2 separate regions of the Homo sapiens genome follow, and region 2 is linked to region 1. The links come from fine-mapping of genetic effects on plasma protein levels. A gene starts in region 1. The other region holds a variant in brackets. All regions are shown on one strand. Distances are from middle to middle.

Region 1 (12,749 bases):
ATATTGCCTGAATTTCAGCATATCTTAGTAACTGCCTTAAAGTTACAGAAGGACTGAGATAATCTGTTAGAATGTGAACAATAAGAGCACCTACCTCACAGTATCCACATAAATTGTTTAGTGCAGTGCCTGGCACAGAGTAAATGCTCAACAGTTGTTAGTTATGATTAAGTCTGAATAGTAACTCACACACTAAAGTAAAATTGAGGATTTGAAACAGAAATCAGGATTTCCGTTCCTCCTTTGTTAAAACTAGGCACAGTATTCAACAGTCTAATCAATTTCTAAAAGTACCATTTAAAACTGAGGTATTTAGTAAATGGTTTATAGACTACTTAGCTCTGTAACTGAAATAAATTATTCTCCAAACACGGCTTTCCTCAATGAGCTTAATGAATGTTTTCTGTTTACCATTATTGATGCTTTTACAAATATCTCCTATGCCTCCAGAATGATCTCGGTGCCAGTGAGTCACTACAATTTCCTGGATTGCTGTGTTAAATTCAGTTAGAGCCTGCTTTAAACAGCTGATGTATTCTGGAATTGCTGGTTCTCCAGTGTCAATGAGGATTCTCCTGAAAATTAAATGGAAGATAATCACACAATTGGAACACTGCGTTGACATTAGCATTATTTTGCACACAGATAATTTACATTAAAGAAACTGCAAAAATTATTTTACTTTTAACATGCACAAAAACCAGCTACATCACTTCAGCTTAACTACAGTAATCTCACCCTAAGAAAGTTTTCTGAGAAAAATTAGAGCTAAATATAAGTCTGAACAAGGAATAATAGCAGTCATCTTGAACATTTACATAGCAATTAAAATAAACATGGCACCATTCCAAGGACTTTACATATTTTACCAATTACATTCCTCGTAACAACTGTTTAAAGTAGATATTTTATCATTATATTTAGAAGTAACTTGCCCAGGTTACTCTACAGATAAATGGCAGAAACAGCTTTCAAACCCAGGTATTCTGATGCCAGAATATGTGCTTTTATCTATCTGCCTTTGAGATCTCATATCTCAGTATATTTCAAAAGTTTTATAGATATGAAAGATTTTGATTCAATGGCACCCCTAAAGAAACTAGTCTTTGGCACTAGATATACAACTTATCACTGAAGTTTTATATTAGCACCCTGACACATGAAAATGAAGGCTTTAGTGAAGCATGGGAAAAACATCTGAGCTATTTTCTTTCTTTACTTAGACAACCCCATTAGCTGTATTTTTTGCTTGTGGTTCTGAATCTTCCTTATATTTTGTTTGCCCTTCCTCACGATTTTATGAGGTGGCCTTTCTCTGTGAAGTTTTGCTGAACTAAAGACATGGGGGTGACATGTTCCTCAAGATCCAATTCTTTTTTTTTTGAGACAGGGTCTTGCTCTGTCACCCAGGCTGGAGTGCAGTGTTGCGATCTCAGCTCATTGCAGCCTTGACCTCCTGGGCACAAGCGATTCTCCCACATCTACTTCCTGAGTAGCTGGGACTACAGGTATGTGCCACCATGCCCGGCTCATTTTTGTATTTTTTGTAGAGATGGTGTTTCGTCATATTGCCCAGGCTGGTCTCTTAACTCCTGGGGTCAAGCAATCCTCCCACCTCAGCCTCCCAAAGTGCTGGGATTACAGGCGTTGAGCCACCATGCCCAGCTCAAGATCCAATTCACAAACTTCTTCACTCATACTGTTTCACAGTAACACCTCAATAATTCAGGCTGGCTGACAGATTAGCCTTGATGAAAAGTCTGAGTTATTCATTAATTGATCAATAACTGTTTATGGATTACCTAATATGTGCTACAAATTTGTTTCTTGCAGTAAGCAGGACACAACAACCCTGCTTACATTCAACTGTTGGTGAGAAGGGGAACTGCATATGACTGGAAATAAACAATAAAAGTAACATACCATAGAAAGCATTTTGCAAAGCATTAAAATTAAACAGTGAGTAACTGGATGGTTATTTTTTATTGGTTTGTTTCCCTAACCCTACTCCCTGAGACCCAGAGCCAACAAAAACAAACTGGCCTCTCATAAGGGAGGAGGGTAATGGCCTCATAGCCCATTGGCTTCTATCTGCACCCTATGTTCTGTAGCACAGTAGATGTCCTTCAGAAACACAGTGTTGAACTGTCCTATCCGGAGACAGGAGACCAGATGGTTACACTGGACCAAGAGGGCATTTATTATAGGGTTCTGTTGGTAGTGGAAATGTAAGGAAGAGATGGCTTTAAGAACATTTAGAAGGTACAATCAACCAACCACCAGGATATTTGTTAAACAACGAGATGTGGAAGGAGGGAAACAGTTGGCGACTCTGAGGTTTCTAGGTGGGAGGATTGGTGTGCCATTAATCAAGAAGGTAAACCCTGGAGGGAGCAAATTTGAGATGAGTTTGACTCGGGTCAGAGTGAGTTCTGATGCTATTCCTAGCCATCTTATCTTGCTTTTTTTCCATAGCAATTATTACCATGTAATATATTATGTATTTACATATTTATTTTTTTATTGCCTATTTCCACAACCAACACCACCGTACAAATTTGAGTCCCTTCAGGGCAGAAAGCTTGTCTGTTTGGTTCAAGGAATTTATGGATTTATTTCTATATCCATAATACATTGTACTGCACTTAGCATTGTGCATATTTAGTTATGCTAAATTAAAATACACAAGACTATAATACTATGATACCTCCAATAATACTCTCTAGCCCACCCATCCTAGATTTTGGCTGCCTCCATGCATTTGCAGTTATTTACCACAAATTCTCACTGCCCCTAACGTAGAGTCACTGGGACTATTTTTGTGGGTCTTCTGGTCCTCACAAAAAGAATACTTCCATGCTTCAGGTAAGGCTCAAATTTTTTCAATCCATCAAGGCCCCACCACTTTTAAAATTATTTCTTAATCCTTGCCTTCCCGTCCTCCCAAGAAACTCTGTTTTGAAATATCTCCTAATCTAAAAATGAATATAAATTTCTGTAATTTAATGACCAGATCACATCACACTGATCAAAAGTCATGACAAAATTAACAGGGTTGATACATGAATTTGATAAAATCTAGTAGCAAAGAAAACAGATCTTTTAGAATGCCTGTGCTGGTTGTTTGCAGGTGAAAGTGTGAGTGACCATACGACTGTGGTAGTGGAGAACATGTTTCTGGGGCTCCAGTTTTAGGTCTCTTAATGGTCCTGTCTTGGTTTAACAAAATTGGAATTGATAAAAGAAGGGCTCTCAAAAGAAAGAAAACAGAAAAAAGTTCTGGAATTAATACAATCTATTCAGAACAAAGGAGGGGTGTCTAGATACTATAAAACCTAAAACATGAGTTTGCACCAAGCTTTGAGGGAAAAAAAAAGTCACACTGATAACATATGACATTGACATAGCAATTTAAACCATTTGGGGCTTTCATATTTACTATTTCTTTTGATCCTCATATCAACTCTAGGGAGGTATTATTACTTTATTAATTATTTATTTTATAGAAAACTTATCTTCAGAAAGGCTAAGTGATTTGCTCCAGGTCATATAACCAGCAAGAGGCAGTGCTAGGAAGCACTAGATGTTCAGATACAAGGTCCAGTGACTTCTCCATTCAAAACACTGCCTCTCTAGCAGAAGGGGATTGCTTAGGTTAAGTGCTTAGAATCATTATGTGGCAAAAATAAAACTTCAGCTATACATTTGAAAAAACTGTTATCAGTTTTGAAATTGAAAAAAATGTTATCAGTTTCTCCCTTAGCAAACAGTTACTCTATCAGTGATGTCTGTAAATAGTTATAATAGATGATTGGATAGTATCATCTCTACATGGGCTAGTTGACTTTGTTCTTCTTGGCCACAGATAATAATATCCCTATCTCAGGAGGTCATTTTGCAAATGCAAATTATGCTAATGAAGGGCTCAAGGGAAGAGTATGGATGAATCTGTATAGGTCTATGAACGATTTATTCACTAGAGCAAAGTGCCTGGCACATAGTAGGCACACAATAACTGTTTGCTACATGAATGGAGAAAAAAATTTTTAATTGATGGAAAATTAGTAGAATCAAATTCCTTGTTATAGGTATTTCATGTCAATATTAAGATAGCTATTAACTGGTCTCTATTTGCTGTCACTCTTATAAAATCATTAGATATTTTCTGAACACCTACTATGAGCACAGTGTTATCTAGATGTTATGAGGAAAGCAGAAGTGATAAACATAATGGCTAACATGGTATGTTTTCCACGTGCTAGAACTTGTTAAGTGCTTTTCATATACGTTTTTTCACTTAAATTTCACTGAGCCCTTATAAAATCCAATGAGGTAGGTACTACACAACCTTCATTGGGTTGTATCAGGAATCTGAAGCTTAGAACTGTCTTGTCCAAAGTCATATGGCTAGTAAATGGCACCAGGATTCTAATCGAGGTAACCAGAGTCCAGAGTTTTAATTCTATTCCACTTGACTACCTTTTTCTATTATCAGCCACACTGTCTGCCCACAAAGTATGTACAATTTTGATAGGAAAGGTTAAAATTGCAGTTTTTAAAGGTTCTTGAGCAGAGGAGGAAAGTAAAAACACTGGACAATTTGGCTGTCATTTGTTGATTCAAATGCTTATTGAGTACCTATGTACTAAGCATCACAGTTAGGTCTAGCAGTGTTTTAGTGAAATTCATTTGGCTTCCATGGGCTGATCAGATGAGGAAGGAAGACCAGCTAAAACTGTAGTTATCCAGCAGTTCTGGAGTCATAATAGTGAAAATTAAGAGAAAATGTACAGAATGCTCATTCATTCAGCAACTGTTTACTGTTCTACCTGAACTGTGTACAAGGCTCTGTGCTAGGTGCTGGGGATATAGCCATGAATATGCTTTCACTGAACTGATGTTATAGTGGGGTATGAAGGTGTGGAAAGACACTAAGCTTCTTGCACAAAAAAATCATTTCATTATCATTGAGATAAGGACCATGAAAAGTATGGAGTGTCCCTAATACAGTCTGATGGGTCAGGGAAGACTTCCATGAGGAAATGGTATTTAAACTGTGCTCTAAAGGATGAATGAGATTAGCTGGGTAAAGAAGGGAGGAATGAGTGGAAGAAAGAGGAAAGCATGCGTGAAGGCCCTGAGACAGGGAATCACAAACCTCATCTGAGACACTAGAAGGCCAGCATGGCTGGAGTGGGAGAGGTTTGAGAGGAGCCTGATAAGACTGATGGAGGCCAGAATACACAAGGCCTTCCAGTTTTAATTCCTAAAATACCACTCAGGCTACAAAGGGAAGATTGGATTGAAGAGAGACAGAGGTAGTCGTACAGAAGCCAATTAGGAGGCTATTACAGTAGCCTAAGCAAGAGTTGTGCTGGCTTGGACTGAGTGACAGCAGGGGACATGAACAGATCTTCATAATGGCTTGGATATGCAGTAGGAAGCAAATAAATGTCAGGAAGGGTATTTAGGCATTTCCTTTGATGGCTTTGTTTATCAAGATATGAACAACTGAAGGAGGACCTGGCAGTTTTCTGGAAAGGTTATGAGTTCAGTATGGAAAACACTGAGTTCCAGGCAGCAGTGAGTCATGCAAATAGATTTAAAAGTTGGCTACTTGAGTCTGAAGATCAAGTTTGGAATTTGAACTTGAGCTATATATTTGGTAGTTAATAATAAACAGATAATAAAGGCAAAGCCAAATAAGTAGATGAGATCACCTAGGTAGAGAATACAGTAGAAGAACATGAGAGATGAGGATTATATACTGAATAACTAAAATAATTAAAGATTTGATAAAGAAGATGACTCTATCAAGGTGAAAGAGAAAGAGCAGCTCAAGAGGTAATAGGAAACCTGAAGAATGTGGTGTTGGCAAATTAAGGAGGGAGTCGTCAATGGTGTCAAAGCACTGAAGTTCAAGGAAGATGAGAACAGAAAAATACCATTGGGGTTAGTGATACAAAAGCCGCTTGTGATCTTAGAACTGTTTTGTGAAGCGGAACAGGTGGATACCAATCTCAGAACATCTGACAAGGGGCCAATTAATATTAACTTCTAGCCACCTTTTACTTTACACCTTTTACTTTATACAGTAGCATTATCTACACTTATTTCTAGCTCAACTATACGGACTCTCTAGTTCAACTATATGGAGAAATAATTTACATAGTGCAAGTAATTCCACTGGCCATTCCACTCCATTAATTTATGTGAGCAACAGTGTTAAGTAATTTAAGACGAGAGACTATAAATCTGCTTTTCCCTCAGTTAGTCTTTAAGTCTCTCTTAGCACTAGCACTTTGCTATGTTGAGTGTGATTATAGTGTTTAAAGATACAGTATGTATTTTTCATACAATATAGCCCCTCAACACAAGCCAATTTCTTCACCTGGTTTTCAAACAGAATCAGCCATCTGTTTCAACGCTGGAAAAAAGGCAGGTTGTGCTGAACTTACTGAGACAATACACTGATCTCCAACATGGTGTTCTTCTAAGAGACTTTCCAGGGTAATTCTGATAATATGCATCTTTTGTCTGAGGTATTGACTAGTTCAAGATGACACACTGTAGAGAGACCGCCTATGGATTTACTTGGTTGAGGGACTTCCAGCCAAGACAGACTGTACCCTAGAGATCTGGCATTTTTCCTGCTTAATTCTCTATCCTCCTAGATTCTGGTGGCAGCCTAAACCTTTGGTAACTACCTGACCCTGCCTTATTTACTCTGAACTTAATCTTTTACCTGCCCACTTTGCAGGTCTGCTGCTTCTAAAATTCTTATTTACTGGAAAAACGCCAAACAGTAGACACTTCCAAGGAAAACTCAATTAACTGTACTTACTAAATCGTTTTTAGTAATCAATTATATTTTAAAAATAATTTATGTCTTGACTGCACAATTAAATTCTATGCTCAAGAGAAACTACATTATCTGGGTTCATCCAGTAAAGACTACAAAAGTTGCTAAATGCCTAAGACTTACTATGCAGTAAACCAAATCTCCCATTCCTGCATAATTCCACTAAAACAGAATGCAGCTAAACAAGAGCAAAAGTATCTTCTTAGAAATACAGGTGTGTTACTGTGTCTGCAAATTAAACTCAAACAAGGTCACACACAATTGTAACAAAAAACTTCCCCAAATTACTTATGTCAGCTCCTCTTATGAGCCCACAGGCTGCAGAGAACCAATTTGGAAGCCAGGAGAATCCTGCCCTCTGCTGCTGAGTTGAGGAAATCGCCTCAACATAATTAATCGCTTTTGAGAAGGGAAGTTACACTCTGGGCAAAACACCAGTGAAAGTCAAGTGAGCAAAGTAAACGCTTTCTTGGACTCTTGACATCCGAATTTTCTCAACAGTTTAAACACGCACACCCTGGCATTCAAACATCAAGAACAGTAAATCGGGTTTCAAAACAGAAGTTTTTTTTTTTTTTTTTTTTTTTTTTTCCATTTCTCCCTAAATTAGAGAGCTATCACCTGGGGTGGTCGTATTTTAGCTAGCTTCGAGATCCGAGTGTCTGCGTGCAGTCCCGACGGGGCTGCTAGGCGCGGGGCTGCCCAGCTAGGGACAGGACGCGGCGCTCTCCACTGCCCGCGCAGCCGCGATCAGTCAAAGCCCGGGCTCCGGGGCCGGCTGCGAACGTTGGGGAGGTTGGAGAGGGACGTTTACCTGGGGCCGGTCCCCACTAGGTAGGTGTTGGTGCCTTGGAGGGTCATGGGACCCGGGTTACAGCCCAACACACGCACGACTCGATTGGACAGCCGCTCGACGCGCTGCAGTACAGCAGCCATTCCCGCCTCAGCCGCCCGCCGGCGTGTCGCCTATCTGGATACTCCAGCGCGGAAGAAGCCAACAGGCCGGGGATAGCGAGTAGCGTCCACGTGATGCCTCGCAACCCGGGAGGGAGGGGATTGGCCAGCGGCTGGTCCAGGTGTCATGTGACACCGCGGACGAGCCGGGGCGGGGATCCGGCAGCTAGGCCGGGGGGTGGGGGGGGCGGTGCGGAACTAGAGGTCACGTGACGCCGCGCGGGCTGCGCGGGCAGTGGTGGGAAGGCTGGCGCGAGGCGTGAGGTGGCGTGAGGCGAAGCTGGAATCTGCCTCTGTCACGGGGGCTGGTGCCTCACGGGTTTGTGTCCTAGACAGGCGAGTGGATCCAAGTGGGCGAGAGACATTTTAATCTGGAAGAGTCTTGTGATTTGGGAGACAGGTTTGGTAACCGTTCGTTATTCAGTAATAAATGTCAGGAAGGATTGCCAGATTTTTAGGCAGTGGCTCTGTGTGTGTGTGTGTGTGTGTGTGTGTGTGTGTAGTAGTAGTAGTAGTAGCCTGTTCATTTTTTTTTTTTTTTTTTTTGAGACGAAGTCTCGGTCTGTCGCCCAGGCTGGAGTGCAGTGGCGCGATCTCGGCTCACTGCAAGCCCCGCCTCCCGGGTTCACGCCATCCTCCTGCCTCGGCCTCCCGAGTAGCTGGGACTATAGGCGTCCGCCACCACGCCCGGCTAATTTTTTGTATTTTTAGTAGAGACCGGGTTTCATTGTGTTAGCCAGGAAGGTCTTGATCTCCTGACCTCGTGATCCGCCCGCCTCGGCCTCCCAAAGTGCTGGGATTACAGGCGTGAGCTACCACGCCGGGCCAGCCTGTTCATCTTTTATAATAAATAGTGGTAAGACATATTTACTTAGTACTTCCTACTATGCCTAAGTGCTTTCAACAAACATCCGACTTAACGCCCTTAATCCTCAGAACATTATTAAGAGGTGGACACTATTTTTGTTACAAATGAAAAACGGGGATTGGGCAGCTGCCCAGATGACAGAGTCTGCGTGTGCGGCCTTGCTCCTACCTGCCTCGCACTAACACTTGTCCCCCTCAGTGAGATTCAAGGAGCATGCCTCTGCCTGCCAGTGTTACCTGCCTGCCCAGAGAGCTAGGCTGGTCTTGTGGAGCCGTTTTGTGCCCAAGATGGAAGGGACTCATTTTCTCTGTAACAAGTCGGTTTCTTATCAGCCAAGTATTAACTATCCAGTGTTAACTACAGCTTCCCATAAAAAAAGTTGAGTTATAAATTACTTAAAAGAAAATACACAGATCCTGTAGACAGTTCCATCGAGTTATGACAATTGTATGTAATCACTGCCCCAAAGAGATGTAGAACATATCCACTGTAGCAGCCCACTCTTTTTTTTTTTAAAAAAAGGTGAGAAATTGACACATACAGTGCTTGGTGGCTTTTTTTTTTCCAGATATTTCTGATGAAGAAAACGATCTGCTCTTACCTATTTTATGAATCAGCAGCATAGTGTATCAGAGTGGCTAATGACATCTGCTTTGTGTGTGAGAAATGTCTTTGCCTTGTTTCACACAGTTGTACTTTTAATGGAAAAATATTCAAAAAATCATCGCTGAAATAATCATATAAGTTATCCCCTGTTGCAATGGGAAGTTAAACAGTATACCCTTCAAAAAATACTTAAAGTAACCAAATCTCCTACATCAGGCATTTCAATCTGTCAATATGTATTTATGATAGCCATCAATTAATGGCTATTCAGGCAGGAGGCTTTGCACATCTTCCCTTTTTAAGAACTCTGCTGGAAAGTCAGTGAACCCTGGAGAAGAGGATGGAACAGTAATTTCTGGACCAGATTCCTGAGAATCTGGGCACTCCCCTTCTTTTATTCTTTGGCTTAATTAATTTCCTTACTTAACTTACTTATTTACTTACAGGGTCTGGCTTTCACCCGGGCTGCAGTGCAGTGGCACTATCATAGCTCACTGTAACCTTGAACTCTTGAACTCAAGCGATTCAGGTGATCCTCCTGCTTTGGTCTCCCAAAGTGCTAGGATTGCAGGCTTGAGCCACCATGCCTGGCTGAGATAAACTTTTTAGCTCCCACGTATGAATGAGAATATGTGATATTTGTCTTTCTATGCATGGATTATTTCACTTATCATAATCTCTAGTTCCATCCATGTTGCTGAAAATGACATGATCTCATTTTTTTTTTTTTTTTATTATACTCTAAGTTTTAGGGTACATGTGCACATTGTGCAGGTTAGTTACATATGTATACATGTGCCATGCTGGTGCGCTGCACCCACTAATGTGTCATCTAGCATTAGGTATATCTCCCAATGCTATCCCTCCCCCCTTCCCCGACCCCACCACAGTCCCCAGAGTGTGATATTCCCCTTCCTGTGTCCATGTGATCTCATTGTTCAATTCCCACCTATGAGTGAGAATATGCGGTGTTTGGTTTTTTGTTCTTGCGATAGTTTACTGAGAATGATGGTTTCCAATTTCATCCATGTCCCTACAAAGGATATGAACTCATCATTTTTTATGGCTGCATAGTATTCCATGGTGTATATGTGCCACATTTTCTTAATCCAATCTATCATTGTTGGACATTTGGGTTGGTTCCAAGTCTTTGCTATTGTGAATAGTGCCGCAATAAACATACGTGTGATTGTTTATCTAGAAAACCCCATCGTCTCAGCCCAAAATCTCCTTAAGCTGATAAGCAACTTCAGCAAAGTCTCAGGATACAAAATCAATGTACAAAAATCACAAGCATTCTTATACACCAACAACAGACAAACAGAGAGCCAAATCATGGGTGAACTCCCATTCACAATTGCTTCAAAGAGAATAAAATACCTAGGAATCCAACTTACAAGGGATGTGAAGGACCTCTTCAAGGAGAACTACAAACCACTGCTCAAGGAAATAAAAGAGGAGACAAACAAATGGAAGAACATTCCATGCTCATGGGTAGGAAGAATCAATATCGTGAAAATGGCCATACTGCCCAAGGTAATTTACAGATTCAATGCCATCCCCATCAAGCTACCAATGACTTTCTTCACAGAATTGGAAAAAACTACTTTAAAGTTCATATGGAACCAAAAAAGAGCCCGCATTGCCAAGTCAATCCTAAGCCAAAAGAACAAAGCTGGAGGCATCACACTACCTGACTTCAAACTATACTACAAGGCTACAGTAACCAAAACAGCATGGTACTGGTACCAAAACAGAGATATAGATCAATGGAACAGAACAGAGCCCTCAGAAATATGATCTCATTTTTTTATGGCCAAATAGTATTTTATTGTGTGTATATATCACATTTTCTTTATCCATTTGTTTGTTGATGGACTTTTAGGTTGATTTCATATCTTTCCTATTGTGAATAATGTTGTGATAAACATGCAGGTGCAGTTGTCCCTTTGATATACAAATAGTAGTGGGATTGCTAAATCATATGGTAGTTCTGTGTGTGTGTGTGTGTGTATTTTATACATCTCTGTACTGTTTTCCATAGCGGTTGTACTAATTTACATTCCCACCAACTGTGTATGAGAGTTCCTTTTTCTCTACATCCTCTGCAGCATCTGTTATTGTCTTTTTAATAACAGCTATTCTAACTGGGGTAAGATGATATCTCATTATGGTTTTGATTTGCATTTGCCTGATGATTAGTGATGTTGAGCATTTTTTCATATGTTTGTTGGCCATTTGTATGTCTTCTTTTGAGAATCGTCTATTCATGTTCTGTACCCTCTTTTTGGTGGGATTATTTGTGTTTTCTCTTGTTGAGTTTGAGTTCCTTGTATGTTCTGGATATTAGTCCCTTGTCAGATGAATAGTTTGCAAATATTTTCTTCTGTTCAGCAGATGTCTCTGCACCCTGTTGATTGTTTCCTTTGCTGTGCAGAAACTTTTTCATTTAATATAGTCAAATTTGTCTGTTTTTATTTTAGTCGTATGTGCTTTTGAGGTCTTAGCTACAAAATCTTTGCCTAAACCAATGTCCTTATGTATTTTACCAATATTTTCTTCTAGTAGTTTTATAGTTTAAGGTCTTACGTTTAATCCTTCTTGAGTTGGCTTTTGCATATGATGAGAGACAAGGTCCAGCTTCATTAGCTTTTTTTAAAAATTAAACTTTCACTTGCACTTTCCTTCTGGATTCCATTTAATCAATTGCCAAGCTCCTCATTTGGCAGATGAAGGAATAGGCCAAATGATTTAAAAGTAAGGCAACTTGCATAGGGCCATACAAGGAGATACTAGAAAAAGAGTACAAATAGAAGGTAGATAGTGACTATGTTTTAGATGAGATAAAATTGAGGTAATTGTGGTATATCCAGGTAAAGAAACCTATGGACAGTTAGATATATTTTTTGGTCGGGTGTGGTGGCTCACGCCTGTAATCCCAGCACTTTGGGAGACTAGCCTGACCAACATGGTGAAACCCTGTCTCTACTAAAAATACAAAAATTAGGTGGGCATGGTGGCGGGTGCCTGTAATCCCAGCTACTTGGGAGGCCGAGGCAGGAGAATCACTTGAACCCAGGAGGCGGAGGTTGCAGTGAGCTGAGATCGCGGCACTGCACTCCAGCCTGAGTGACAGAGTGAGACTCCATGTCAAAAAAAAAAAAGATACAAAATTAAGTCTTTGTGAATATGTTTAGAAATGTGACTTGAAGTTTAAGTTCCTCTCCAAGAAATCAGATCAAATATTTTTCACGTTCTGTTCAGTTACACTTACAATAGTTTATTATCTACTTACAACATGCAAGGTAATGTTGTAGACATATTGAGGGCATGTTAAAAATGAATAAGATAATCTTTGCTTTCTAGAGGGTCATAACCATGAAGGAGATACTTTTAAAGTATATATGGGTTCAGGTATGGTGGCATGAGCCTGTAATCCTAGCACTGTTGGGAGGCTGA
Region 2 (12,749 bases), 50 kb before region 1:
TGAGTTGTAAGGGTTTAAAAATATCTATTCTATATGTCCATGTTGTTCTGTAATTTATTTTAAAAAATAAAAGATAGATTCTAGATCTTAGCAGATATATGATTTGAAAATATTTTCTTTCAGTCTGTCTTTTTACTTTCTTGATGGTTTTCTTTGAAGCACAAAAGTTTTTAATTCAGCAAAGTCCAACTTACCTGTTTTCTCTTTAATCACTTGCTATTGTTGTCCTATATAAGAAATCAGTGCCTAACCCAAGATTCCAAAGATTTACTCCTGTGTTTTCTTCTAAGAGTTTTATGGTTTTAGCTCTTACACTTGGGTCTATGAGGACTCACTTGTATTTTGTACATAATTTCATTTTAGCAATAATCATACTATCTTCTATTGTTTGCAAGTCTGTCTTCCCACTAGACTGGTACTCCTCAGGAACTGGGAGTTGTTTCATTTTTCCAGCTCCTACTACCTGGTGCTATACTGTCAAATATTTAGTGGTCATTATTTATTGAGGGAATGAAAAGAAAAAATACCTCACATAAATGAGAATAAAACCTTAAGATAGTTTAACCAAGAAACAAACATAAAAATGATATATGGCTCTACAAAGTTACTCATTTTAAATATATTTAAAGAAGACTTGCAATGCACCAAGCAAGTCCTGAGTTGTAGGATATAATTATTAACAAGACAGATTTAGTCTTTGTTCTTGAAACGCATACCTGGAATAGAAGACAGACAGTAAACAATGACCAATGTGATGGATATTTACAAAGAGACAGTGCAAGGTGCAGTAGAAGTGTTCTAGGTCATTTGGAAATGAATTGCTCTACTAATGTCAGTTTTTAAACTGAAATTGGTCCTTTCAAACCTTAGAATCTGGTGATTTTTCACTCCTTTGTGAGAAGACCACATTGGTCTTCTTTCAGCTGCTTAAACATATCATACTCTGGCCAGCCATAGGACTTGAGATGACCATTGGGTTTTTGTTGTTGTTGTTTGTTTGTTTGTTTTTGAGATGGAATCTCGCTCTGTTGCCCAGGCTGGAGTGCAGTGGCACGATCTCAGCTCACTGCAACCTCTGCCTCCCAGGTTCAAGTGATTCTCCTGCCTCAACCTCCTGAGTAGCTGGGATTACAGGCACGTGCCACCAGGCCTGGCTAATTTTTGTATTTTAGTAGAGATGGGGTTTCACCATGTTGGTCAGGCTGGTCTCGAACTCCTGACCTTGTGATCCACTCGCCTTAGGCTCCCAAAGTGCTGGGATTACAGGTGTGAGCCATTGCGCCTAGTGACCACTGGGTTTGGTAAGATGGAGGTTGTGTGGTTATGTTAGTTTGGGTTGTCCAGGAAATAGATGCCAAGAAGGAGTTAGAAGCATAAGAGACTTATTGGCAATAACATTTGTGAAAATTAAAGGGGAGGGGAGTTAACAGGGAAAAGCTTCAGGCTGTAATGTAGATCTGATCCCTGTGAAAGGAAGGAAGAAGGATCAGGCAGGAAGAGCCTCAGACTGAGGTGCAGCTGAGAAAGTTTTGGCCAGCCTTGTGTGTAGAGCTCCAGCACAGAGACTTCCCATTGAGGATTTCCACATTGGATGGAGATGATGAGTCCTTGGACCGCGACAGTGCCCTGTCATGCACTGTGGGCTCCTACCCTGCACTCTTGCTATCTTCCACAGAAGGTCCTGGCTTCTGTCAGGAGACCCTCTCTCCACAAATCTCTCTTGGGCTTTGGTAATTATCTGTCTTGCTCCTTCAGGGACCCTATTGTTTATAGCCTTGGGGTACTGCAGTATCATTTGCCGTTTCCTTACCCGAACCCACACGCTTGAAGAGAGTGCCTTTATACAAATTTCCCCAAATCATCCAATTTAAACATGCCATTTGCTTCTGCTAGGACCCTGACTCTTATGGAGTCACTAGTGACCTTTAAGACAGTATTTTCTTTGGAAATGGTAGAAACAAATGGCTGACTGGAGTGGGTTCAAGAGAGAATGGGAAATGGCAAGATGGAGGCATGAGTATAAGCAACTCATTTGAGGGGATTTCCCTGCAAGGGAAGGCGGAGTAATGGGCACGTGGTGAAGAGAGGTGTAGGGAAGGGTTTTGCTTTTCTTTTTGGATGAGCTATATTATGATGTATTTGCATGCAGATGAGAATGATCTATAAGAAAGATTTATTCTACAGGAGTTGCTTGCAGAAGCAAAGTCCTTGAGCAGCTCAGAGTTGATGGCATGTAGTGCACAGCTGACCACAGTGACAAGATAGGGTGCCCACAGCAACCAGATAGAGGGCAGAATTTAGGGGTAGGCTGATAATGGCAAGATGAAGTTGTCTGCTTCTGATTGTTTCTGCTTTCTCAGTAAAATAGGAAACAAAATCATCAGGAGTGGAGATAGTGTGATGACATTTGAGAAGAGAATGGAGGAAAACTGTGGAGGGTGAGTAGATTAAAGGGATGTAATCAGACAGCAGGGCCCACTTGAGATTTGGGGCCATACATTTAAAGCGAGACTAGTAAGCAGAGCCACATAATTTTCTCCAGGCATATCTCCCTGTTTGGATACAGGTATGGAGAAGGCAGAATTGGGCTTTGCCAGGCCAGTATGACAAAGGATGTGGAGGATGTGCAAGGGTGAGGGCAGGGGTGATGAAGTGAAGGCCATGAGGTGGTGGTCATGCTTGTTATACTGTCACCCTCTGCCCTGAGAGTCCACCCTTTTCTGCTGTGAAAGGCAAATGTCTGCAGACTGCAGTACTGGGGCTCCCTCGCCCTTGACTTCCCATTGGAATGGGACTGGAAGTCTGTGGAAGACACTAGCCAAAAAACAGAGGGTTTGGGGATTTCTTTATACTCCCATCATCCCTCCTTGCCTTACTATGGTTCCAACAGTGACTATGTTTGTTCTCCTGTGGCCACTGCCTGTGTCAGGTAGCTTTTCTGTTACTGTTTCAGCTCTAAGTGGGCTCCAGGGACCTCATTCTCTCCCCCGCCGCTTCAGGCTGTTGGTTGTAATAGCTTCCCATGCTCTTACTCCCCGCATACTTCACCATCCCTTGTTGGTTCATTCAACCTGCTACTCCTCTGTGAATAAGCCCTTCATTAAGTGCTCTCCAGCTAAATTCTTTTGAATGGGCCATCTATTCCTTGCCAGTTCTCTGACAGAGACAGAGGACAGAGAAATAGTGCTAGGGCCTCTGAATTGGAGGCACCTATGGGGCTGAAGAATTGTTGTGGAGGGGGGCTGGCTGAGGAGGAAGTGGTGAGAGAGTGGGATGCTGGAAATGATTTCAGAGGTTGTGCAGTCACTGGCAATGAGATGCACAGGGTAGAAAGGTGGGAGTGGGTAGCTGAGGTGAATGGAGGAGGAGAGCTTTGAGAGTGAGAAGTCAAGGCAGTAGGAGGCTAAGGTGCTCAGCACATGGATGCTAAATCACCAAGAATGAGTGAAGGAGAAGAATGGAAAGGGAGCCAGTGAGGGAGCTGGGCACTAACATCTGCTGCAAATGAGGAAGAGCCTGAGAGGATGGCAGATGATTGCCACAGGAGGGTAGTGGGTGGTGTAGTTTCAGGGCATGGACTTCCAGAAAAGCTGGGGTTTTTGAGCAAGGGAGGAGAATTGTCTGTCAGCAGCAATGAGGACCATGAAAGACACCCATTCCACCCCTAGGCTCTGTGGTATGTGGTGCGTGGGAGGGAAGAAACAGCCACCTCTTGAGAAGGCTCCAGGGAAGCAGGTTTCAGTTTTCAGTTAGAGCTGCCTCCAGGTTTCTGAGCGAGAAGGTGAAGAAAACATTCAGAAAGAGGCAGAGGGTGTTGGGGATTTGGTAGATGGCACACCTGGAGCTTTGGGGGATACACTGCAAGAGTTTGGGGGCTGCGAAGGGGCTTTTGGCTTAAGCAAAATAAAAGGATGAATAGAGCTTTGTGGGGAGGAGATTGTGGTGATGATGGATAACAATGGAGGTTTGACTCTGGAGGTGACTAAGGTGGAAAGAGTTTTGAAGCATTACAGAATGATCCTGAGGTCTTTTAGGGGAATGTGGAGGTTTAATAATAATTTTAGCTTCTTTTTTAGGATTAGCCTCTTAAGTTTATAGTGAAAGGTGGCTGCCATTAAATTCTCCAAGCGTAGGTCATGGTGGTGGGGAAAGTGGTCCTACCAAGACACATGGGCTCTGGAGGCCTCCCTTAGCAGATTTTTCGTTTTGTTTTGTTTTAGAATGGGGACCAGGCTGGTCTCAGAATCCTGGCCTCAAGCAATCCTCTTGCCTTGGCATCCCAAAATGCTGGGATTACAGGGATGAGCTATCCCACCAGGGACCCCTCAGGCAGATTGATTTCTTATGTGTGTTCAGCTCTGGAGGCCACATTCCAAGTAAGTTAAGACTTTGGCAAACATAGCCTGGATCCTAAAATTCTCAGGATTCTTTTAATGACTGTAGGACAGAAGGCAGCTTTTTGGGATTAGATCTATCCAGGAAAATTTGTGGTACAAGGTTGCTGTAATTATGAGAAATATAAAAGAACAGAAATATGATCTTTGCCCTCAATGAGGTTGTGTTTATGTGGCCTTACAAGACATGTATAAGAATGAAAAACCTGTTCTGAGATGATGTGAAAGTAGGTACAAGAAATTACCTAATAGAAATAAGTTAGAACTAAAATGGGACTGTTTGATTTCAACCTCTCCTTGGGGACAAATTGATGAAAAGTAAGAAACGAATGTTTGTTACATGCTTATTAAATTCCAGGCATTTTGCCTTTACATATATCATTTGGTCTTCACATAAATCTTATAAAATAGGTGTTGTTGTCTTTATTTAAAGACAGAGAAGCTGAGGCTCAGAGATGTTAAGTAATTTGCCCAAGGTCATAGGTCCAGGTATCTGTATGCCTGCCAAACCCATTCTTTTTGATGTTTTTTGAGACAGGGCCTCGCTATGTTGTCTAGGCTGGCCTTAAACTCTTGGGCTCAAGAGAACCTCCCAAGTAGCTGGAACTACAAGTGTGCATCGCTGTGCAGCAAAGAAACCCATTCTTGTCTCATGTAAACAGTCCTGCAGGGTCTGTACTTGCCAGGAAGACTCTGACTCTTCAGAGAGCAGTGATTCTCAATCTTATCTCATTGCTGATCTATTCAAGAGACTGGTTGCTGCCTATGTAGAAACACAAAGCCCATGAAAAAGACCCCAACAGATCATTTTTCTGTTTACATGCTATTGTTATATCATTTACAGTGAGTTTAAAAATATAAAATCGTACTCATCTGGTGAGAAGGAAATTGTATTTTCATGAGGAAGCAAAACCACTTCATTAATACTTGGAAATTATATGATTTCCTTGAGTATACACTTCGCTGCTATGGAAACGAGAAAACAAATTTATAAAACAGTGTTGCTACTAGTATGTAAGACTGGCAGGAGATGGCATGTCACATTTAGAGGTAGATCTGGCAATTCGGAGAGAGCTGGTTGGTAATGGCTACGAAGATTCTGTGACCCATCTGACCACTACTTAGGTGTCTCTCTAGGGGTAGAATGTAATCCTGTGACCTATAGAAGCTTAAGGAGCCCAAGCACAAGGTGGACTTTCTCACCCTATTTAACCAAGCACATCAGGGCCTGAGTACTACTTCTCTGATGAAAGAGAGCCCAGTTTCAGTAAGTGGTGAATGCAAAGTGAAAAATGGAAACAGGAAGTAGAGAGAATATTTTCAAGAAGTTTAACTTTGAAGGGGAGAAGAGAGCAGGGTGTGTAAATAAAGAGGAATAACGGAGTCAAGGTAGGTTTTGTTTTTGTTTTTTGAGTGATGTCACAGTTGAGCATGTTTATTAATAGATGGTAAGGAGGGGAGAGATGAACAGGCTGAAGACAGGGGGAAGAGGTGGGCAAAATGATGGACAGAGGTTTCTAAACTTTGGAATCCACTAGAACTTTACATAGGAAGGGACACTTCTTTTTACACCAAAAGGATGGAGGTAGGAGGAGAGGCTAGTAGAGACAGGGCAGTCACAGAATGACAGTGGATGTTCTTCCATGTGGATGGTGAACTCAG[G/A]AAGGGCACTGCAAGGAGAACTGTGAGCCAAGTTTCTGTTTTGAATTGTTAAAAATAAAAACTACAGGCAAAATACATTTAACAGAGTTTACTTGAACATTAAAGGTTTCACGAAGTAGGCAGCACTCAAAACCAGAAGAGGTTCACAGAATTGTGTTTCAGCCGTGTGAGCAGCAGGCTTTTATAGGCTGAACAAGTAAAGAAATTACTTGGCTAGGCACAGTGGCTCACACCTGTAATCTCAGCACTCTGGGAGGCTGAGGTGGGCGGATCACCTGAGGTCAGGAGTTCGAGACCAGCCTGGCCAACATGGTGAAACCCCATCTCTATTAAAAATACAAAGATTAGCTGGGCGTGGTGGAGCGCATCTGTAATCCCAGCTACTCAGGAGGCTGAGGCAGGAGAATCGCCTGAACCCAGGAGGCAGAGGTTGCAGTGAGCCAGGATTGTGTCACAGCACTCCAGCCTGGGTGACAGAGTGAGACTCTGTCTAAAAAAAAAAAAAAAAGAATTACTTGATTGGGTCCAGCTAAACATTTCCCTTATTTGGGTACAATCTGTTGGAAGTCCTTAGAGGTAAGTTGGTGGTTTGTGATTGGTTAAGCTTAAGTGTCTGTTTACTGTTTCTATTGAATTGGGTTTTAGTTTGTTTGTGTAGGAGCCTAAGGTGTTCATTGGCCTTATGACTGCCCAATTACTTATTTTTTTTTTTAATTTTATTTATTTATTTTTGAGACAGAGTCTTGCTCTGTTGCCCAGGCTGGAGTGCAATGGTGTGATCTCGGCTTACTGCAACCTCCGCCTCCCAGGTTCAAGCGATTCTCCTGCCTCAGTCACCCGAGTGGTTGGGATTACAGGTTCCCACCACCATGCCCAGCTAATTTTTATATTTTTAGTAGAGACAGGGTTTTGCCATGTTGGTCAGACTGGTCTCGAACTCCTGACCTCAGGTGATCCACCCACCTCGGTCTTCCAAAGTGCTGGGATCACAGGTGTGAGCCAGCGCACTCAGCCAATTACTTATTTTAACAGAATGAATGAGTGGAGAGTAGCAGTAATAAGGGCCCAAGGAAATATGTCAGCAGGAACAGGGTTTTTTCAGGCATAGGGGGCAGTGAATGGTTTGGAGAGGGAGAAGGCTATTAGCCCCACCTCAAGACATACAAAGTTTGACAGAGGAAAGATGTTCATTTAAGAGGGCTGAAAGGGATTGGTGTTTTGAGGGGAGAGCCTGGTATATAGTTAAAGCAACTGGTGAGAGGGAATGTTTGGTGCAGTGGCAGAAGTTGTAGGAAGTTTATTTATAATGGAATGAATTATATTAGTTATAACTCTTTTAGTTGCAAGTGACTGAAATGGGAATATAGTGAACCAAAAGTTAAGAGAGTCAAAAGAAAAGCTTCAGGAGCCAGGGTGCATTGTGGATCTTAGGAAATAGAACCAGGCACTTGACTTCATTAGATTCTCTCTCTACCTTTCTCTCTCTCTTTATTTTTCTTTTGTCTTCTGTTTCAGCTTGGCTTCACTTTTTCCTGTTGTAAATGGACTTTATTTACATGGCAGAGAACATGGTCACTTGCTGGTTCTATCAGAACAATTCCAAGGAAAGACCTAAAGTAGGCTGGTTTAGGTTGCATGATCATTTCTGGGTCAATTATTGTGGCCCATCTTGGCCACATGCTTTTCCTTGTGGGTAGGGTTAGTTTAGTACCAGAAGGTGTGGAGGAACAAGTACTAGACAAGTAGAATCACCGTTGATGTCCTAGAGAACATGGTGTAAAGGATCTGGAGGTACAGGAACAGTGCGAGGTGGTTGGATCAGGGAAGAAAAATCCAACAGTAATGTGAATGTTAGTGAATGAGAAGAATGGATGGAGTGACTTGTATTTGAGGCAATGGCCAAGGACTGTGGGCATATCTAGTAGGGTGATTTCTAAAATAATTTCAGCAATCACAGATAGAGGAAGGACTTCAGTTTGAATTTGTTGTACTTTCAAGAGGGTTCTAGTTCTTAGGAACAGACAGGAAAATGGTGACAGGTAATTGGTTCCTGGGAGGCTGGCACATTCTGGAGACAGCAGCAGTTTCTGGGGATGCTTCATAAGGCTATTATGCACTGACATCTGCCACGGACCACCAAGTAGAACATTTTCACCTGATGAGAATTAAACATTGACAACATCATTTTGTGCAAAATGCCTTCCCCAAATTAGAAGGACTTATGCCTCAGGGAATTTGTGACTGATGGAACTGAATAGATATCTTGTAGCCATCAAAAACTGGTGTGTGGCTCAGTGCCTAGTAGAACCCAGGTCTTGGGGTGATGGCCAAGGATTCTTTGGAGCTCCTTCCTTGCTTGCATCAGTCCATGTGTTCCAAGACAAAGCTTATGGCACAAATTAAAACTATAACATATACAATTCTTTGCAGTTCCCAAAGCGCTTTTGATACACATTACTAATTTTAACTTTATATAAATCTAGAACATAATGTTATCCCTGTTTCAAATGAGGAGATAGAGGCTCAGAAAAATAACTTAAGGTTTTACAACTAAGTTTTAACTCCCAGGATGAAGAATGTGAATTTTAGCTTATAAAATTATGGTCAGATTATACTAAAGACTAAATATGGTACTTTGTGGCAATTAATTGGTATAAGTCAAAGTGAAATAATCATAAGGGAATATGTGAATGTACTGTTAACAACATCAAAATAAAATTAATATTTATTGGATGCCAAGCACTATGCCTAACACTACAAACTACTTATTTAATAGTGACAACAACTCATTGAGTCAGATCCTATTACCATTGCTTTTCTACAGATGAAGGCTGATTAGACAAATATTACTAAACTGTTAATACCACCACCATGATAAATGGAAACAGGAATAGGCTGCATACAGGGAAATCAACTAATAGTAGTTGATTTTAATTAGGAAATGAGCACTAGGCTAGGGAAAGAAGAGAAAGGAATAAATCCTTGAGTCTGTCTAAGACAAATGATAGGTTTTCTCCCTGTGAAGCAAACCACTTTTATTTCTTAGGCCATTTATCCCTCCTTCTGAGTATCACTTATACCAATCAGCATTTTCTTTGGTTTTCGATCTGCCTTCAAACTACATCCTCAAATTGTAGCATAAATATTTCCCAGTTAAGTGGAGTGGGGCTAAAAAGAAACAAAGGTGACAAAGGACTAATTCAGCTTGGGACATGGGAGAATGGTAATGCCATTTACCCACATGGTGTGTAGGGAAAGGGAGGTAATCAGGAAATTGTTCAGTAAGCTGAAAAGTTTGGTTTTAGGTGCACTGGGTTTCTTCACATGCATGTCTGGTCTTTGGGAGACAGCCAAATAAAGGATCCCTACAGACAGCAAAAGATTCAGGCCTGGGGCTTTGGTGAGTGATTCAAGCTAATCACACATTTGGAAATTATTCAGCATGGTGGTAATGTTAACACCACCAAAATGGATTAGCTCGTTGATGTGGTGAATAAAAAGAAAGAACAATGCATTTAGTCTTGGGGGTGTCCATATGAAAGAGGCTTAAGGGGGATCAGGAATTTAATTACGTATCTGTCATTTTAATAGCAAATTTCAGAGTCCTTTTCAAATGATAAGTTTCCCATAGTCTCCATAAAACTGAATGAGGAAATTTTTAAAAGTCCATAATATTCTTTTACTCTATAATCCTAGTAACTTATTTATTTTAGGCTTAAATGCTATTGCAAGGAATGTGCTGGTCTAAAAGACAGTACTATTAGGTTATTTCCTCCCATTTTGAAATGTATTAAAAACATACTAAATGAGCCAAGTAATATAATAGGGAAAGAAATGGAGAATAATTACATTAAATAACTGAATTCCAAGAATAATTGCTGTAAGACTAGCTTCCAGGAAGCCAAGGCAAAAAGTGATCATGGAGAATTAACTAGATATTATCCCATGTAGAGTTTTGGAAACATGGCTAATTATCAGTATCACAAGGGCTGTCCCTCACCAGGAGAGTCCAGTGAATGGTCTTACAGCTGAGAAGCTGTGTTGTTTTAATTTAAAAGTTCCCCAGGAAATTCTGAGAATTAATCAGATTTGACAAGCACTACTCTAATAAAGGAAACATAGAAGTTCACAGGAGAGACAAACTTTTTTTCTAGCTCTGAAATCAGAAAGAGATTTTGTTCCATTGACATTGAAGAACATTCGATAATAAAACAGACAATGTCCTCAATGGAATTTAAAAAAAACAGGTAAGATTTTATCTGTCTATTTTTTTTATTTTTAATAGAGACAAAGTCTTGGTGTCACCTGGGCTGGAGTTCAGTGATGCTAGTTGTGGCTCACTGTAGCAAACTCCTGGGCTGAAGTGATCCTCCTGCCTCCGCCTCCCAAGTAGTTAGGACTACAGGTGTGCACCACCATGCCCAGCTAATTGTGCCTGGCTAATTTTTAACTTTTTTGTAGAGACCAGTATCGCAATGTTGTCCAAGCTAGTCTTGAATTCCTGGCCTCAAGCCAACCTCCTGCCTTTTGCCTCCTAAAGGTCTGGGATTGCAGGTGTGTACCACCACACTCAGACTTATATGTCTGTGTCTTTATACTGACTTTTGACAAAATAAAAGCCACCAACATAATATTAAATTACAATTCTGTTGCTGTAGTAAAAGAATCATCTGGGCCAGTTGAAAAAACTGTACTCCTTTGGGGCCCAGAAATTTGCATTTGTAATAAGCCACCAATTGACAGTGATACAAATGGTCCAGGAACGCATTTTTACACTGAGAGAATGGATGGTTAACAACAGTCCTTAGCATTTTAGGTTTAGATATCAAATGTTAAGGTATACCATTTGTAATAGACATTTTCACCATTTTTGAAAACTGAAGCAGGGTTAATCTACTTCTATAAGCTGGGAAGACTTCTGTGGTATAAAACCAGAACACTTCTGGTAAAACTTTTCTTCAACACTCAGGAAAATATTAAAAGCATGGGTTGCTTTATATGCCACTAGAGTAGATATTAGTCTCACTCTAAAAAGAAGAAATTCATACTCAATGGATTAAAACCTTTTAAAATCATGGGATAAAACATGGGAAAACAAATTTACTAGTCTTTTGGTAGAGATGCACTTTACTCAAAACATTAAAGAGCCAAAGACATCACTGTGTTAATACAACCATATGTAATATAAGGTCATATATATGGTCCTGAATTGCTGCAACCCAACATATTTGGAAACATCTGATTTGTAGCAACACGATTTTCAAGATTGGTCTTTATTTTCAAATACATCAGGAAAAAATATTCTTAAGGGGAGTGCTTCTTTGTGGTCATAGTCATCTCATACTTCTTAAAAACACTAGTAAAAATAAGTAGGGGAGTCTGCCATATAAATGTTGCATTCCTACAGATTTAGTAGTAACTTGACCACACACAGAGAAAATGTGGTGTTGGCTGAAGACTGAGGGATAGAGGCAGGGTCCTTTTTCTCTTTACTAGTTATCGAATCTAGTTACTAGTTACTGAATCCTAAATTCAAGTCAACTCTCAGTGAGAGAAACTTGAACTATCATAGATTTTTTAATACTCTAATATATTGTGACTAAAAAACAAAGGTGGGATCTACCATAGACATATAAATAGCACCCTGCTGGATTCAGGTAACTTTGGATCTAGTTCCCTTTAGATGGTTTTCATACTGCAGTAAAGGTCATAGAAGTCTGAATCCAGTTCACCTTAATTCTCTAGGTCCTTTAGTCTAGATACTAAGTGCAGGATTTCTTTTTAGGGAAAACTTTGTACTTCAGAATAGCATCCATGAAATAATATGAATTTGAAAATTCCTATTTTTAAACCTAAGTGAGCAATAAATAAGCATGTACCTTTCGTTGTTTCCAATTCCTGATAGCTTTTGCAGGATAAAAATTCTAGGGCAAAAATGCTTATTCCACTGAACTAAAAAGTTGGAACCCATCCATTGCATACTATCAGTATTTTGACATTAAAAATTTAAATTTTTACCAAACTAATAAATAGACGTAATTTAAATATTAAATAGTAACAGCAGGAAAAACATTTCTCCATTCTCTCTCCTCCCAGTCCCACACTTCCCAAAGGCAATGACTAAACTCTTTTAGACATTTTTTTCTAGTATTAACCAATAAAACACTTCTACTACTTCTTGATTTGCCAATTTTAGGCTTTATTGACTTTCTATTATCATAGGTGATGATTTAGTATTCTTAACTTCCCACTTCCTATCTCCTGTTATCCTGTATCACCATTTTTTGGTCAGTGTTTACACTATTTCCTAAGAAAAGATGCAGAGGCAGAAAGTATTTCATGATTATTTCCTTCCTTGCACTACTTTAGTTTTCTGGAATAAACAATTGTCTCATATTTTCTACCTGCGTAGTTTTCTATGAACTCATTATTTCAATTGTTCATCTAGAGCTGTTGTATGACCACCAGCAGTTTTTTTTTACCCCCAGTGCTCAACTATATCAGATAATATATTGGTTCCATTTTTCCCCCTGGAGATCTCTCTCTCTGAAGCTCCCCCTTCCTCCCGCTCCAATCTGGAGAAGGCTCTGGGCACACCTTTGTCTTATAACTTCCTCTTGGCATTTTTCTGTGGTAGATTTACTATTTCAATTTTGTGTTTTCCTTTTTTCCTATTTTTCTAGAGTATTATCA

Which allele goes with the higher level. Alleles are on the strand shown, and positions count from the first base shown. The strength of an association depends on the size of the effect and on how common the allele is.
For the plasma level of the protein whose gene starts at base 7,863 in region 1, A is the low allele of the variant in region 2 and G is the other (moderate association).

What was found. A credible set is the group of variants that fine-mapping cannot tell apart. PIP is the posterior inclusion probability: the model's chance that the variant is causal. The UK Biobank Pharma Proteomics Project read protein levels with antibody pairs (Olink). The fine-mapping took linkage between variants from a reference panel, not from the people measured, so its PIPs are less certain.
Region 2: its variant is the best candidate, but not a certain one, in a credible set for the plasma level of the LACTB2 protein (UK Biobank, PIP 0.81).

What each region holds. Positions count from the first base shown.
Region 1 is chr8:70,661,323-70,674,071 of GRCh38, forward strand. It overlaps LACTB2 (lactamase beta 2), which reads right to left and starts at 7,863. Exons shown (of 7, transcript NM_016027.3): 1 at 7,677-7,863; 2 at 412-575. The coding sequence starts at 7,798. XKR9 (XK related 9) reads left to right here and starts at 8,017. Exons shown (of 5, transcript NM_001011720.2): 1 at 8,017-8,216. It overlaps LACTB2-AS1 (LACTB2 antisense RNA 1), which reads left to right. Exons shown (of 4, transcript NR_038881.1): 4 at 1-1,957.
Region 2 is chr8:70,611,575-70,624,323 of GRCh38, forward strand. All of the region lies in intron 1 of LACTB2-AS1 (LACTB2 antisense RNA 1), which reads left to right. Among named protein-coding and RNA genes, the nearest start is that of LACTB2-AS1, 9.4 kb to the left of the region's middle. RefSeq lists an enhancer at 5,971-6,050. The variant G/A (reference allele first, on the strand shown) is at 6,057.